Homo sapiens: one gene and its partner. The protein of the gene in region 2 purifies or fractionates together with the protein of the main gene of each other region. This does not show direct contact. Each region holds a gene or a part of one and is shown on either strand. Other genes may lie near its edges.

The links.
Region 1: the proteins of DPY19L2 (region 2) and LDLRAD4 purify together in Homo sapiens (co-immunoprecipitation; one large-scale study listed by IntAct). This does not show direct contact.

What each region holds. Positions count from the first base shown.
Region 1 is NC_000018.10:13,221,760-13,225,259, forward strand, and holds part of LDLRAD4 (low-density lipoprotein receptor class A domain-containing protein 4 isoform alpha 1), read left to right. Parts: intron 1-3,500. UniProt on the Homo sapiens protein: Functions as a negative regulator of TGF-beta signaling and thereby probably plays a role in cell proliferation, differentiation, apoptosis, motility, extracellular matrix production and immunosuppression.
Region 2 is NC_000012.12:63,563,994-63,567,493, forward strand, and holds part of DPY19L2 (probable C-mannosyltransferase DPY19L2), read right to left. Parts: intron 1-3,500. UniProt on the Homo sapiens protein: Probable C-mannosyltransferase that mediates C-mannosylation of tryptophan residues on target proteins. Required during spermatogenesis for sperm head elongation and acrosome formation. Also plays a role in acrosome attachment to the nuclear envelope.

The DNA of each region.
Region 1 (3,500 bases), on a different chromosome or scaffold from region 2:
AAAATGGTACTTTGGCCTTTTAAGCTGTTTTTGTGAAGACTTTTCTTTCCACCAAGCTTGTTTTCCAGATAGGTCTTGGAGATTACAAAGAACATAGATATAATTTCTCCCTTGATTGGCAGCTGCGAGCTTTCCCGGACAAAAATAATGCTGCACTGTGCCAAATGGTTGACTTTTCTAGAATAAAAACTCTAAAGGGTATGCAAAAAGTCCTCTGGTTAATATATTGGCATTCCCAGAACCCACTAACACTCCGGCAGCCTGCCAGACTCCACTTAACGAGGACACAGAATGTCTGGCTCAATCCCCATGAGCAGACGGGGGTGGGGTCTGGATGTCCACACCCTTTATTAATTTTTAATGACTGTACTTTTGTTTTGCAGATTTTCCTCTGTACCCCCTTCTCAACCGTCTCCTACAACGTCACTCCCCCCATCCATTTATTTACTCATTTACTTGGCATCGGAAAAATGTCGAGCTGTTCAGGGTTAAGGATCCTGCTGAGGGATCATTTCTGTTTGCATGGGTTCTTTTGTTGTTGGTTTTTTTTTCTTTTTCTTCCTTTTTTTTTTGGAAGAGGAAGAGAGAAAAGGAACAGAAAAGATGACAACTATTTTTTTTTAAGGATGCTTTATTGTCTGCTGGAAAAAGAGAAGCATTTACGAAACTTTAAGTTTGTCAGACAGTTTATGTGACAGTGCAAGTTGGTGCTTGCCAAGCTCCAGACAGATTGTTAATGTTACATGACAGGGATAAATAAATTACCGCTGTCTGCAACACGCTTGCACTGCAAACGCACTCTGCAGCCGGCGGCCGGCTGGGCGCCGCTCATGGGCCTGGTGTGCATGCAGCTGCGCAGAGGGCCTCTGCCTGCCGCCTAGAATTCTGTGCCTCGGTTCGGAAATGAAAAGGGTGTGCCTTGCTTTTATTTTTGGCTCTACTGCAGGGCAGTAGAATCCAAGGAGCAACTCTGTGTCCTTTATTTTGCTAGGCTGCTCCGCCTCCTCCCCTGCCCTGGCCCCACCTCTGGTCCACACTCCCGTTCTTCCTCTGAGCAGGGAAATCAGGCACCTAGCTTCTTCCCAGGAGACCTCAACTTTGTTCTTAGCTGCCCAGGGCCTAAAGTATCTCAAAGCCAAGTTTCAAGCTGTTTACAGTTGTGTTCTTTCTGCAGGTGCAGACACTGAGAACAAATTGTCTACGATAGATAAGGCTGTACTGGCCTGGGAGGGCCTGGGTGGCACTCCTTGGGCATAATGTACTTTCATCTGGGCAATTTGGAAGCTCAGCTGGCAGAGTGACAGGTGTAATGAACTTAATGGTCTTGCCCTAGTTGTTTGCGGACACACAGCTCATGTTACAAAGCCACCTCATACCAGGGGCCCCTGCCAAATGATTTGCTCTTCTCTTTGTGGATGGGACTTGGGGACTGGACGACTGAGTGGCGTTAAGGTAGGGAAGGGGGTGGGTGTGAGTGATGTGTGTTTGCCCTCATCTGCTCTGTTCCTAAAAGGACCTAGAGAGTCTCCTGAAAGTAGGCCTTGAGAGAAAGAAATTCTTCCCACTCACACTGGCTAGCCATCCTCCATGCCAGGTGTCGCGAGGACCCTCTGCAGATGTGCTTCGACTTCCTGCCTCTGGGGTTTGCAGAATGGCAGGCAGGCTTTTTGCCACACTGTGTGGCTTCCTGGTACACTGCTGGCCTGGCTGCTGGGATTCTTCAGAAGAGGGCTGGGCCGGCAATGCACAGCCAGGCATTGTTCTCGGAGTCCGTGGCCCCAGGGGCCAGCAACCTGTGCACAGAGCTGCAAGGGAATTTCCATTGGAAAGTCTCTCTGCTTCCGAAGGCAGCCGCTGGAGAGGCTGTAGGAGGCCAGGCTGCTTTCCGAAGGGCTCCCTGACCTCTAACCAGGGCACGTGGGCAGATAATAATAACAGCAGCTCCAAGTGCTTCTGTAGCCTCTCCTGTGTGCCAGGCTCTGTTCTGAGGGCTGCCATACACTGATTCACTAATCTAATCCTCACAGCGGCCCTGTGACATGGGTCCTCCTGCCATCTGCATGTTACAGAGATGTCAAGACATTGCCCAGAGTCACCAACTTGTGAATAAAGGGTGGAGCAGCCTGGGCAGTATCGCTCCAGGTTCTGGGATCTGCCTCTGGAGCTAAATGAGGTGGGACCTGGGTCAGGGATTCTTCATCTGGGACCACTTACTGGCAGGGTGCCATTCTCTTCTTGTCCCCATACAGGTCCCACTGGGACTCTATCCAGCCAGCAAGTTCAGGGTTTTGTCCTTCTTGCCTCCGTGCTGTAGCCCTCCCTCCCCAACTCCCTCCCCTGTTTTTAATCCTAATCTCTGCTCTCTGCCTGTTTTACCTGTGGCAAGAGCCTCAGTTATGAGCACTGGACCATGGCAGCTTTGTCTCTGTCCACCTTATCCCTTGAGTTCCTTGAGAGAAAGACAAAGCAACAGTCAGCAGGAGTGCTGGTATTGCCAGATATTTCTTCTGCACTGGTCCTTAAAACCACTTCCATCAGCCTCCCCATGGCACCTCTGGGTGTAGCCTGGTGGAGTGTGACTGCCCGGTTCCTGGGAGCAGCTAACTGCCTGGGTCTGGGGGTGTGTGCTGGGAATGCCCCCACCAGCTGTCTCTTCACTCGGAGGGATCCAGTTCATCCCAGGACAAAGAGCACTATAGTTTCTTTCTTTCTTTCTTTTTTTTTTTTTTTTTTTTTTTGAGACGGAGTCTCGCTCTGTCGCCCAGGCTGGAGTTCAGTGGCGCAATCTCGGCCCACTGTAAGCTCTGCCTCCAGGGTTCATGCCATTCTCCTGCCTCAGCTTCCCGAGTAGCTGGGATTACAGGCACGTGCCACCACGCCCGGCTAATTTTTTCATATTTTTAGTAGAGACGGGGTTTCAGCGTGTTAGCCAGGATGGTCTTGATCTCCTGACCTCATGATCCGCCCGTCTTGGCCTCCCAAAGTGCTGAGATTACAGGCATGAGCCACTGCATCTGGCCTACAGTTTCTTTAAAAATGAAAAAAAGTTATCCCATCTTTAAGAGTCTCTCTTTTTTTTTTTTTTCTTAGATAGAGTCTCCCTTTATTACCCAGGCTGGAGTGCAGTGGCGTGATCCATCTCAGCTCACTGCAACCTCCGTCCCAGGTTCAAGCGATTCTTGTACCTCAACCTCCTAAATTGAGTAGCTGGGATTACAGGCATGCACCACTACACCTAGCTATTTTATGTATTTTTAGTAGAGACGGGGTTTCGTCATGTTGGCCAGGCTGGTTTCTCACTCCTCACCTCAAGTGATCCGCCCGCCTCAGCCTCCCAAAGTGCTGGGATTACAGGTGTGAGCCACTGCGCCAGGCCAAGAGTCTCTGTTTTGCTCCATGAGGTATAGGTAAATGAATCATGCATATTGACGTGTACGTCCTATGAAATGTTGTCCACCTTGGACAAGCTAAATCTTTGAGATTGTGGGACCTAAAGGGAG
Region 2 (3,500 bases):
ACTTGTCCATTTTATCTATTTTGTCCTACTTAGTGGAATAAAGTTGTTCCCAAAACTCCCTCATTATGCTTTTCATTTCTTCAGATCCTGTAGTGATAAAATCTTTCTTATTCCTGATACTAGTAATTTCTGTCTTCAATCTTTTAGTTCGGGTAGGAATTTATCAATTTTATTAATCTTCTCAAGAATCAGTGTTTGGTTTTACTGACTTTTCCCTGTTTTAGGAGGAAATACACACTGATTTTGATTCTAATCTTTATGCTTTCTTTTCTTCTCCTTACTTTGGAGTTTACTTATTCTTTTTTTCTAGTTCCTTAAGGTGAAGCTGAGTGACTGATATGAGGCCTTTCTTCTTTTTCTATTATGGGCATTCAACATAAAAACAAATCTCCCTACTGCTGTATCTGCATCCCACAAATAGCGGGATGGTGTTCTCATCTTCCCTTAGGTCAACATACGTTGAAACTAACCCTCCTTTTGTTTCTTCTTGACCATGGATTATCTGGAAGTGTATTACTTAGTTTCTAAACATTTGAGGGAATTTCCATATAGAATTCTGTTACTGATTTCTAATTTAATTTCATTGTAGTCAGAGATTGTATTTTACATGATCTAAAGTATTTTAAATGTGTCAATACTTGCTTTGTGGCCTAGAAAATGGTCTTTTTTGATAAATAGTCTGCGTGTGCTTGAATGTCTATTTTGCTGTTCTAGGGTGGTATGTACTATAAATGTCAATTAGGTCATATTGGTTGATGGCATCATTCAAGTCTTCCATATTCTTGCCAAATTTCTTTTTATTTGTTCTACAAATTATTTAGAGAAGGCCATTAAAATTTCTAACTATACTGTAGATTTGTCTATTTTTCCTAAAGTTCTATCAGTTGTATTTCATATTTTTGAAGCTCTGTTATCTAAGTGCATAAATGTTCAGGGTTGCTACATCCTCTTGAAATATAGATCCCTTCTTCATTTAAAAATCCTTGTTTAACCTTGATAATATTCTTAGCATTCAAATATACTTTGATGTTATTACAGTCACACCAGCTTTCACTGACAAGTAGTAGCATCACATGTCCTTTTCCTATCTGTTAACTTTTAACCTCTTCGTTTCTTTATATTTAAGTAAATTTCTTGAAAGTAGCCTATAGTAGGGTCTTGCTTTGCTGTGCAATCTGACAGTTCTTGCTTTTCATTTGTGGTGTTTAGAGCTATATTCGTTTCCTATTGCTGCTATAACAAATTACCACAAACAGTTGCTTAAAGCAACATATATTTATTCTCTTTCAAAGTTTGGAGCTCGTAAGTCTAAAATCACAGTATTGGCAGGACTCCAATCCTTCAGGAGGCTCTAGAAGAAAATCCACTTCCTTGCTTTTTCCAGCCCTAGAAGCTGGCCTCCTTCCTTGGCTTGTGGCCTTATATCACTCCAACTTCTGCTTCTACCATCACATCGCCTTTTTGATCTCTTACTCGTTTGCCTCCTCCTTATAAAGACTTTGTGATTACATTTGTCCTACCTGGATAATAAGGATAATCTCCACATCTCATGAGCATTAATTTAATCACATTTGCAAATTTCCTTTTTCCATGTGAGTAACGTAATTCACAATTTCTGGGAATTAGGACATGGCCATCGTGGGGGGCTCATTATTCAGCCTACCACAAGTCCATTTACACTTAATGTGATAATTGATATGGTTAGATTTAAGTCTGTCATCTCAGTGTTTTCTTTGTTCCATCTGATCTTCATCTCCCTTTTCCACTTCTTCTGCCTTATTTTGGATTGAGTGATTTTTATAATTCCATGTTAATCTTGTTTGTTGCCTTTTGGGTTCTGTCAATTTTTGCTTCATATATTTTGAAATTCTCTTTTAAGTTCATATGCACTCAAATTATTGTATCTTTCTCCTGTACTGAACTATTTTGCATTATAAAACATAGTCATTTCTAGTAATATTCTTTGTCTTAACATCTATCTTCTCTGATATTCATACATTTTTCACTTCAGCTTTTCTAATGTTTACTCACATGATATCTTTTCCATTCTTTTTCCTTCAGCCAATATACATATCTGTATTTAAAATGCACCTCTTGCAGGCAGTCCATAGATAGGTTTTGCTCTTGTATTCAGTTTGCCAATCTCCACCTTTTGTTTGGAAGAATTTAGTCCTCTTTCACTTTGAAATTACTGATATGGTTTGATATAGGCTTGCTATAGTGCTCTTTTGTTTTTTTAAAAAAACTTTTTATTTCAAGACATTTGGAGATCCACATTAAGTGAGAGATAATACAAGTAGCTCTTGTACAGTCTTTAGACAGTGTCCTCCACCATGGTAACATTTTGAACATTTGTATAATATCACAGCCAGATAATTCACATTGACAGAATGGTGAAAGAGAGCATTTCCATCACCACAGAGATCCCTTGTATAGCCACACATACTATACTCCCCCCACATTCCCACCCCACCCTAACCCCTCGCAACCACAAATCATCCATATCTATAATTTTGTCATTTGAAGACAGTTATACAAATGGAATCATACAGTATGTAACCTTTGGGGATTGTCTTTTCTTCATTCAAACAATTCTCTGGAGATTCATCCAGGATCTTGAGTGTATCAATAGTTTGACCCTATTGCTGAGCAGTATTCCATGGTATGAATAGATCACTATTATTTAATCATTCACCTTGCGAAAAACATCTGGGTTGTTTCAGGTTTAGGCTATTACAAATAAAGCTGCTATAGACATTTTTCTACAGAATTTTGTATGAACACAACTTTCCACCTTTCTGGGAAAAAATGCCCAATACAATTGCTGGGTCTTAGGTTAGTTATATGTTTAGGGTTTTTCCCCTTTTACTTTTACTTGACAAGTAATACTTGTACATATTTATGGAGTATAGAGTGATATTTCAATGCATAATTACAATGTGTAATGATCAAATCAGGGTAATTAGGCTATCCATCACCACAAACGTTTACCATCTGTTTGTGCTGGGAACATTCAAAATCCTCTGTTCTGGCTTTCTTGACATATAACGATAAATTACTGTTAACTAATATTCACTCTACAGTGCCAGAGAGCACTATAATTTATTCCTTCTATTTATCTGTAGTTTTGTATCTCTTAACCAACCTCTCCTTATCTTCTTCTCCTCCCTACCCTTCCCACTCAGCCTCTAATTACCACAATTCTACTCTACTTCTATGAGCTACTTCTTTGAGCTTCCACATGAGTGACAACATGGACTATTCATCTTTCTGTGGCTGACTTATTTCACTTAATGTATCCAGGCTTATCCATATCTAGGCTTGCCATTATGCTCTTTTTTTCCCCACTGTTTTATTTATTTTTTGAGTGGTTTTGATAGGGATGACAACAAGCATCTTTAACATATCATGATTTACTTACCATTTAAATTGGGTTATTTCTAGTAAATCGTACATTTCCACAGTTTACTCAATTTTTGTGCTACATGTATATTTAATTT